2 separate regions of the Homo sapiens genome follow, and region 1 is linked to region 2. The links come from fine-mapping of genetic effects on gene expression. Tissue or cell type: unexposed skin. Region 2 holds a variant in brackets; the other region holds the start of a gene. All regions are shown on one strand. Distances are between the middles of the regions.

Evidence for each region. PIP is the estimated chance that this variant, and not a neighbour inherited with it, causes the effect.
Region 1: ARMC10 starts here. The variant in region 2 is fine-mapped to the expression of ARMC10 in unexposed skin (GTEx, PIP 0.95).

Annotation. Positions count from the first base shown.
Region 1 is chr7:103,072,274-103,077,424 of GRCh38, forward strand. ARMC10 (armadillo repeat containing 10) reads left to right here and starts at 2,867. Exons shown (of 7, transcript NM_031905.5): 1 at 2,867-3,138; 2 at 3,504-3,608. The coding sequence starts at 3,000. FBXL13 (F-box and leucine rich repeat protein 13) reads right to left here and starts at 2,523. Exons shown (of 21, transcript NM_001394494.2): 1 at 2,423-2,523. The coding sequence starts at 2,497. RefSeq lists a silencer at 2,454-3,293 and an enhancer at 3,564-3,613.
Region 2 is chr7:103,507,648-103,512,798 of GRCh38, forward strand. It overlaps RELN (reelin), which reads right to left. Exons shown (of 65, transcript NM_005045.4): 51 at 3,204-3,358. SLC26A5-AS1 (SLC26A5 antisense RNA 1) reads left to right here. Exons shown (of 4, transcript NR_110141.1): 4 at 5,122-5,151. Among named protein-coding and RNA genes, the nearest start is that of SLC26A5, 64 kb to the left of the region's middle. The variant A/G (reference allele first, on the strand shown) is at 2,292.

The sequences.
Region 1 (5,151 bases), 440 kb before region 2:
ATATTCTCTTAGAAGAAATGGGTAATGAGTTTAAGGTGGGTGTGTGGGGCCCAGAGGATTGCTCCTTTGCACTTCCTGCTAGTGTGCTAGCAGAGGTGAGTGAAGGACTCCTCAGGAGAACATGATCTTAGACAATGGAGAATGCATATAAGGGCCTCCTCTATGGGTGCAGAACAATGCAGTAAGCTGGTAAGGAAGGAATGCTTTCACCCAGAGGGGGAACTGGGGACTGCCTCATTGCAGCTTTGTGATGTTATAGTAACTGGCGGCCTAGATGAGAAGAGGCCATCCCTTCCTTGATGTACCCTGACTCTCAACTCAAGTCCATTTCTGCCACCTGCTCCACCGCCATATCACAGACTGAGCCATCACTCAGAATGGCTGCACCCTGAATTGTAAATATAAACGTTCCACTTTCTGACCCCCACCTCCTGTGTTTCCAGCTCCCTCACTTAATTACTCCCTCTACTTCTCTTCACTCACCTCTTAGAGGAGTCTTCACTTTCTGTCCATGTATCAGTATGATATCCTTTTCTCATTTCCCACTGAGTCCTTAGAGTCCTTGGCCCATCACTTCAGATACTCAGGAGCTTAGCTCCCTAACCTACTGCCTTTCCATTCTATTAATATATGCCTGGCAAATTCCTATCCCAGACGAAGTCAACTTGGTTATCTCTGTACCTACATCTGATTTACTGACTGCTACTTGAGAAAATCACACAACCGGGAAGATGGGTACCATTCTCCCTACATATTTTCAAGCACAATTGTATAGAGGTACAACACAAAACTCACTGTAATAAATTAAAACAATACAGCTATGGACAGAGTAAAAAGTTAGAATTCTCCATCTTTTCCCCCAAAACCATTCCACAAGACATCTGTTATTAACAGTTTGGCATAGGTTCTATGCATGCACTATTGTCTTAAAGCTAGATATATACACATATATGTACATAAACACATATACAACATATATGAAATCAAATGGACAGCTAGAGCAGAATGGACAGTTGCTAAGCAACTTGCACTTTTTCTTTTTTACTTAATAATATGTGTTGGGAGCCAGCCATGTGGTGTATGCCTGTAGTCCTAGCTACTTGGGAGGATGAGGTGGGAGGATCAATTGAGCCCAGGAGTTTGAGGCTGCAGTGAGCTAGGATGGAGCCACTACACCCTAGCCTGGGTGGCAGACCAACACCCCGTGTCTCAATAATAATGATGATAATAATAATATGTCTTGGAGGACATTTCTTCTTAGTAGGTACAGATATACTTTATTCTACATAATGCCTCATTCGCTTAGTCACTCTAGGTCATTTACTATTTTTACTATGAAACAAAGTTATAATGAATATCCTTGTACATCCTCCTGAACACATGTGCAAGTATTTCTCTAAAGTAGATCCCTAGAAGTAGAAATGCTTGGTTAAAGGGTACATGTATTTAACATCTTAATAAATATTTCTCAATTACCATCCAAAAAAGAGACGGGTGGGGGGTCTCTACCAAATTGCCCTCCCAACCGCCTAGGAGCGTTACTACCCTCAGGTAGGACCTCCTCTTTCTTTCCCTAGACATCTCTCTCCCTCATTCTCCACATAACGTATCTTTGCTCGAACCTCCTACTGCACCAACATCCCCATCCCCACTCAAACACGCACATTCTTGGTAAATATCTCACCAACTATTTGTAGAGAAAAAAAGAGGTCAACAAAGGCAAATGTTCTCAGCTTCCTACCCCCAAACCTACAAAACCTAATGTCTATCCCCTTCCTGTCTTCCTTCCCTACTCTTATAACGGCAGTAGGAGGGCAGTCCTTCCTGTTGTCTAAAGGCAATCCTGGTTGAGAGGGTCCTTACCTTCACAAAGGGCTGACTACACTGACCAAAGGTCTCAGCTTCCACTCTTCCCTCCGCTAACCTCCATCTATTTTCTGCCCTCACGGCTCCATGGAAACCTCAGGCTCACCTTGGGCAGAATCCAGCTCCTTATCTTAGGTGACTAGTGCCTACTCCCTACTTCTGACAACATTCTTCATAATGCCAGTCTGCTGATTTTCCTCCTCAGGCTCTCTGGCACTTCTTTCTCACTCCTCCACTCCTCAGGTACTTCTTGTCCAAACCTTAAAATCTGAGTTTGGGGTTTCCGATCTGGGCCTTGTGCTCATTCCCCCTGGGAGATGTCACCCATTCCCCACGTGCAGCCACCATCACCCTCTGTTTTCTCTCTAATCAGCGTCTTCAGCCCTGATCGCCTACAAGTCCGAATTTGACTTCACTTTCTCGCATTCTGCCCCGCCTTCCCTCCACTCCTCCCCAATCCCGAAACCTAGTCCCTCCTCCGGGAAGTCTTTCCTGACTCCTCCCCCTTCTAACTCCCCACCGACGGTCTGTGTCCGCTGCCACGCGTGTCCAGTACCTCGCAGACCTGAGGAATGTAGTTCTCCTTGAAGTAGTTCTTCAGCCTCGGGTTGGCATTGCGTAGCGAGGCCATGGCCCAAGGCCTGACGGAGAAGCTGCGATAGTACCCTCCCCGCGCTGGGACTAGGGGCCGGGCGCGTGCGGGCGTTGTCCCGGCAACCAGGGGGCGGGGCTGGGCGTGGCACCGCCCCGCGCTCCGCTGCCAGGGGCGGGAGGGAGGAATGGTTGCTTCACGCCCCGGGGGAAGAGACGGGAAGCTCGGCTCTGGGTTGCGGGCCCCGGCGTCTCCGCGTGGGGCGCACCGTCCGACCCCCCCCTCCCGGTGTGCAGCGCCCCGCACCGCCCCGCCTCGCCTGGGAGAAGCCGCCGGGACGCGCCGGGCTGGAGTGGGCGGTTATAGGCTTTGAGCTAGGCCGTTTCCGGGAGGCGGAGCTCAGACCCCATTTCCTTTCTCCACATCCAGGTCAGGTGGCGTTTGCTGTGGCGGCTAGGCCCGCGTGCGCTGGAGACCTCCGCGCTGGCCCCCGCGAGCCTCCTGCCCTGGCCCGGCGCTGCGGCTCTGCCGCGGCGGCAGCATGGGTGGCCCCCGGGGCGCGGGCTGGGTGGCGGCGGGCCTGCTGCTCGGCGCGGGCGCCTGCTACTGCATTTACAGGCTGACCCGGGGTCGGCGGCGGGGCGACCGCGAGCTCGGGATACGCTCTTCGAAGTCCGCAGGTGGGACCCCGGGGTTTCCGGCAGGTGGGCGGGGACTGGGCAGGGGGGCTCCCCAGGCCGGGGTGGTGGCTTGCGTGTGCTCGGGGTAAAATGAGGAGCCGAGCTAGAGGGAGAGGCAGTACTTGTGTGAGTGCAGGGTGCTGCGCCGCCCCCGCCGCCCCTTTGCTGACTATACTGGTATGAAAACTTGCCCTGGCTTTCCTGCCTGAGCTCCGCGTCACAGCGGAGGATTAGATTTCTTAAAAACCTGTTGATGGCCTCTCATTTTAAAGCTTGCTCCGGGCCTTTGTGTAACTAAAGGGATTCTCCCGATTGTGGAAGGGCTGTTGAGGGGCCCAGAGCCATAGGTCAATCTCTGCTTGCAGGTGCCCTGGAAGAAGGGACGTCAGAGGGTCAGTTGTGCGGGCGCTCGGCCCGGCCTCAGACGGGAGGTACCTGGGAGTCACAGTGGTCCAAGACCTCGCAGCCTGGTGTGTGTTTTGGAAATGGGAACAGTTGTCTGCGCGAGACACACCCTCCCAGCGGACAAATGCATGATTCGGTTTCTGTCCAAAAGTTGATCGGTACATTAAAACCCTCCAAAGGCATGTTTCACATCATGGAAGCTGTTAGGGAAATAATTTAAAATATCATATCTGCCATCCAAGAAACTCCTGTCCACAATTGTAGAAGAGAGCTAAACAGCTTCATTGTTGAATAAGCACAAACTAAATTGCCTCACACATCACGGGCAATTTGCTAATGGGATAGCAGGAAGAATTCTAATTCCTTTAAATGTAGCTGGACAGATAGAACCGATTTCATATTACATACGTGTTCTCAAGATAAAAAATAATTTGTCCTTAGGTAAGAGGACTTGACAGTACCATTTGCTACATGTAGTTTATCCTGAATTTACTGGTAATTGGGGTGGTTGTTATCTAATTGCCTTTATCCAGAGGAAAAATAAAAATATCTTTATGATGTGGAACCAGGTGCCCAGGCTAAAAACTCACAGAGTTGGGGAGATTGGGGATCTATCTTCCTGGAAGAGTAGGTTTCAAAGAGTACGCTTTCGAACAGTAGGCTCCAAAGCTTTTAAGAAAGTCTTTCTTGGGCTGTAAAACTGGCCAAATGCTTATTTCACTTTTAAAAAGATTTACAGGCTGGGTGTGGTGGCTCACACCTGTAATCCCAGCACTCTGGGAGGCCAAGGCAGGCGGATCATGTGGTCAGGAGTTCAAGACCAGCTTGACCAACATGGGGAAGCCCCATCTCTACTAAAAATACAAAAATTAGCCGGGCTTGGCGGTGGGTGCCTGTAATCCCAGCTACTCAGGAGGCTGAGGCAGGAGAATCACTTGAACCCAGGAGGCAGAGGTTGCAGTGTGCCAAGATTGCACCATTGCACTCCAGCTTGTGCGACAGAGCAAGATTCTGTCTCAAAAAACAAAAAACAAACAAAAAGATTTACATTTGTATCAAAGAAGCAGAAAAAGGAGTTTTGTTTTGTTTTCAGACAGGGACTCCCTCTGTCACCCAGGCTCGGTGCAGTGGCGCAATCACAGCTGCAGCGGCGCAATCACAGCTGCAGCCTCCACTTCCCTGGGCTCCTCCCACCTCACCCCACTAAGTAACTAGGACTACAGGTGCACACCGACACCTGGCTAATTTTTCCAATTTTTTAGGAGATGAGTTTTCACCATGTTGCCCAGGCTGATTTGAACTTGGCTTAAGCAGTGCTCCTGCCTCAGCATCCCGAAGTGCTGGAATTACAGGATTGAGCCTCCTCACCTGGCCAATAAAGGATTTTTAATTACAAGTTTGCACGAGGGAATGCTTTAAGAAAAAGGGAGTGGAAGGGGAAGGTCTCTCTCACTTTTGCCACTAGGTATAATTCAGCTTTTTTTTTTTAAAGATTTGTATGTACCCTTACTGTATTAGTCCATTTTCTGTTGCTTATAATAGAATATCTGAAACTGGGTAATTTATTAGGAAAGAAATTTATTTCTTAGAGTTATGGAAGCTGAGAAG
Region 2 (5,151 bases):
CAAAAGCTAGCAGAAGACAACAAATAACTAAGATCAGAGCAGAACTGAAGGAGATAGAGACACAAAATACCCTTCAAAAAAATCAATGAATCCAGAAGCTGGTTTTTTGAAAAGATCAACAAAAGAGATGGACCACTAGTGAGACGAATAAGGAAGAAAAGAGAGAAGGATCAAATAGACACAATAAAAAATGATAAAGGGGATATCACCACTGATCCCACAGAAATACAAACTACCGTCAGAGAATACTATAAACACCTCTATGCAAATAAACTAGAAAATCTAGAAGAAATGGATAAATTCCTCGACACATACACCCTCCCAAGACTAAGCCAGGAAGAAGTCGAATCCCTGAATAGACCAATAACAATTTCTGAAATTGAGGCAGTAATTAATAGCCTACTAAACAAAAAAAGCCCAGGACCAGGTGGATTCACAGCTGTATTCTACCAGAGGTACAAACAGGAGCTGGTACCATTCCTTCTAAAACTATTCCGAACAATAGAAAAAGAGGGAATCCCCCCTAACTCATTTTATGAGGCCAGCATCATCCTGCTACCAAAACCTGGCAGAGACACCACAAAAAAAGAAAATTTCAGGCCAATATCCCTTATGAATATTGATGTGAAAATCCTTGATAAAATACTGGCAAACCAAATCCAACCAAGATCAAGTTGGCTTCATCCCTGGGATACAAGGCTGGTTCAGCATACACAAATCAATAAACATAATCCAACATATAAATGACAAAAATGCCATGATTATCTCAATAGATGCAGAAAAGGCCTTCGCCAATATTCAGTAGCCCTTCATGTTAAAAACTCAATAACTAGGTATTGATGGAACATATCTCAAAATAATAAGAGCTATTTATGACAAATCCACAGCCAATATCATACTGAATGGGCAAAAACTGGAAGCATTCCCTTTGAAAATAGGCACAAGACAAGGATGCCCTCTCTTAGCTCTCTCTCTTATTCAACACAGTATTGGAAATTCTGGCCAGGGCAATCAGGCAAGAGAAAGAAATAAAGGGTATTCAGTTAGGAAAAGAGGAAGTCAAATTGTCTCTGTTTGCAGATGACATGATTGTGTATTTAGAAAACCCCATCGTCTCAGCCCAAAATCTCCTTAAGCTGATAAGCAACTTCAGCAAAGTCTCAGGATACAAAAATCAATGTGCAAAAATCACAAGCATTTCTGTACACCAATAACAGAGAGTCAAATCATGAGTGAACTCCCATTCACAATTGCTACAAAGAGAACAAAATACTTAGGAATAATACAACTTACAAGGGATGTGAAGGACCTCTTCAAGGAGAGCTACAAACCACTGCTCAAGGAAATAAGAGAGGATGCAAACAAACAAATGGAAAAACATTCTATGCCCATGGTTAGGAAGAACCAATATCGTGAAAATGGCCATACTGCCCAAAGTAATTATAGATTCAATGCTATCCCCATCAAGCTACTATTGACTTTCTTCACAGAATTGGAAAAACTACTTTAAATTTCACATGGAACCAGAAAAGAGCCTGTATAGCCAAGACAATCCTAAGCAAAAAGAACAAACCTGGAGGCATCATGCTACCTGACTTCAAAGTATACTATAAGGCAACAGTAACAAAAACAGCATGGTACTGGTACCAAAACAGTTATATAGACCAATCAAACAGAACAGAGGCCTCAGAAATAACACCACACATCTACAACCATCTTGATCTTTGACAAACCTGACAAAAACAAGCAATGGGGAAAGGATTCCCTATTTAATAAATGGTGTTGGGAAAACTGGCTAGCCATATGCAAAAAGCTGAATCTGGATCCCTTCCTTACACCTTATTCAAAAATTAACTCAAGATGGATTAAAGATTTAAATGTTAAGACCTAAAACCATAAAAACCCTAAAAGAAAACTCAGGCAATACCATTCAGGACATAAGCATGGGCAAAGACTTAATGACTAAAACACCAAAAGCAATGGCAACAAAAGCCAAAGTAGACCAATGGGATCTAATTAAACTAAAGAGCTCCTGCACAGCAAAAGAAACTATTAGAGTGAATAGGCAACAGAATGGGAGAAAAATTTGCAATCTATCCATCTGACAAAGGGCTAATATCCAGAATCTACAAAGACCTTAAAGAAATTTACAAGAAAAAAAAAACATCAAAAAGTGGTCGAAGGATATGAACAGACACTTCTCAAAAGAAGACATTTATGTGGCCAACAAACTTGAAAAAATGCTCATCATCACTGGTCATTAGAGAAATGCAAATCAAAACCACATTGAG[A/G]TACCATCTCACACCAGTTAGAATGGCGATCATTAAAAAGTCAGGAAACAACAGATGCTAGAGGGGCTGTGGAGAAATAGGAACGCTTTTACACTGTTGGTGGGAGTGTAAAGTAGTGCAACCATCGTGGAAGACAGTGTGGCAATTCCTCAAGGATCTAGAACTAGAAATACCATTGCACCCAGCAATCCCATTACTGGGTATATACCCAAAGGATTATAAATCATTCTACTATAAAAATACATGCACACGTATGTTTACTGCGGCACTGTTCACAATAGCAAAGACTTGGAACCAACCAAATGCCCATCAATGATAGACTGGATAAAGAAAATGTGGCACATATACACCATGGAATACTATGCAACCATAAAAAAGATGAGTTCATGTCCTTTGCAGGGACATGGATGAAGCTGGAAACCATCATTCTCAGCAAACTAACACAAGAACAGAAAACCAAACACCACATGTTCTCACTCATAGGTGGGAGTTGAACAATGAGAACACATCGCCACAGGGAGAGGAACATCACGCACTGTGGGGCCTGTCGGGGAGTGGAGGAGGGATAGCATTAGGAGAAATACCTAATGTAGATGACGGTTTGATGGGTGCAGCAAACCACCATGCCACATGTATACCTATGTAACAAACCTGCATGTTCTGCACGTGTATCCCAAAACTTAAAGTATAATAAAAAAAGATGAAAAAAAGTTTCAACTTGAAATAGTTCAGAAATAAAATACTTTTAATCATTAAGCAATGTATAGTTGAGTTGTATATTAGTTTAATAGTAAATTTTACTTTTCAAAGTATATACTAAGTCAATGAAATATTAGATCATCTTTTCTCTGATATTTTTTGTTATATTGCTAATGTATGGTTGTTTATATAATCAAGATCATAACATTTCACCTTGAATTGCATAATCCAGCCTTCAGTGGGAGTCAGGTCATGGGTCACTGCATACACCTCCCGTCCATCATGACTGCCACAGAGCATCACACCATCAGGGGAGTCACAGAATCTTTCTACTGTACAATCATCATGGAATAGCCAGTGCTCATTCACTTAAAACAAAAAAACAAAATTTTATGACAAATTTGTGACAAAAATACTTGAAGCAAATTTTCACTTTAAGCAAGACATAGAATTATTTTAAGTAGAAACTGCTCATATTATATACACTCTATAGACAAAACACTAATATAAATACATTGTTTCAGGAACATAAATACTAGGAGGATTGAGATATATGCCCTTTGTCTGATATTAGTACACACACAACCATAGATATTAGTCTACACATGAAAAAAAGTATATTGTACACATTGTAAATGAAAATCAAAAGGAAATAACTAATTTTTTGACAGATATTTAACTTTTTAGATAGCATATAAAGAAGTAGAGATGATTTTTAATTTTAAAAATTTTATTTACAGTGTCTCGTTTATTAGGAAAGAATCATGAAGAATCACAATTGCACTGGGCTGGTCATTTTATTTTATTTTTTTTAATACCGGATAGGGAATAGAGTTAACTACTACTCACATTCTGAAAGTATTATCTGGGTAACTAAAAAGCTTGTAATGAATTTTTTATAGCTTTATCAAGATATAACTGATATACAAAAATGACACACATTTAAAACATACATCTTGGCTGGGTATGGTGGCTCATGCCTGTAATCCCAGCACTTTGAAAGGCTGAAGTGGGAGGATCGCTTGAGGCCAGCCTGGGCAACATAGTGAGATCCTGACTGTTAAAAAAAAAATTAGCTGGAGTGGTGGTGCACGCCCATAGTCTCAGCTACTTAGGAGGCTGCTTGAGTCCAGGAGTTCAGGGCTGCAGTGATTTGTGATTGTGCCACTGCACTCCAGCCTGGGCAGCAGAGTGAGACCCTGTCTCTAAAAAATTTGTTTTAAAAAATGAAATATACATTTGATGACTCTGGAAATATGCACAACCCATGATACTATCACCACAAGCAGGGCACCAAATCGATCCATCACTTCCAAAAATTTCCTTGTATTCTTTTGTGTGTGTGGTTTTTAGTTTTTGTTGGGGGGTTGCTGTTTAGAACACCCAACAAGAGACATATCCTCTTAACATATGTTCAGTGCACAATATAATCCTGTCAACCATAGACACTATGTCATACAGCAGATCTCTAGAACTTATTTCTTTTGCATGACAGAAACTTTATAGCTACTGAAAAAGTATTCATTTCCCCTTTCTCCAGATCCTGGCAACCACCCTATTTAATTAGATAAACAAATGATTTTTGAGTTTAAGAAATGAGTTTATAACAAACTTGTTATAAAGGCTAATTTTAAGTCCTATAATGTGAAGCCATGTTTAATTTGGCCAAAAGTAAAATAAAATCTTATTAAATAGATTATTTAAGAAATTAGGATTCTAAGATAATACTGTTATAAATTTACCTTGGTAATGTTCTTAATATTTGATTATTTATGTATGGATATTCAAGTATTCTGGATAGATATTTCTTTTAATAAGTCTTGACTCCTAAACCTGATTAACAGTTAACACTTTGAGGAAATGTACTCATCAAGATACTACTGAAGAAATAGATTTGAAGGTGTCTAAAGAAAACCTAAGTAGTAAGACTATGAATTGATTAATGCAGAGTACATCTTGTGTGTTGATCCTCTCTCTCTTTCTCTCTTAACCCCTTCCTCCACAACCCTCACAGTTCCTTTTCTCTTCTGGAAGAGATGATTTTACATTAATTTTATCCCAGAAAAGTTAGAAATTAAACATATCCATAATATATGTTGCATCTCATTCACAGTATGCTTTGATTTTATAGGTCCAATTCTTTTCTAAAAGTCTTCTGGCT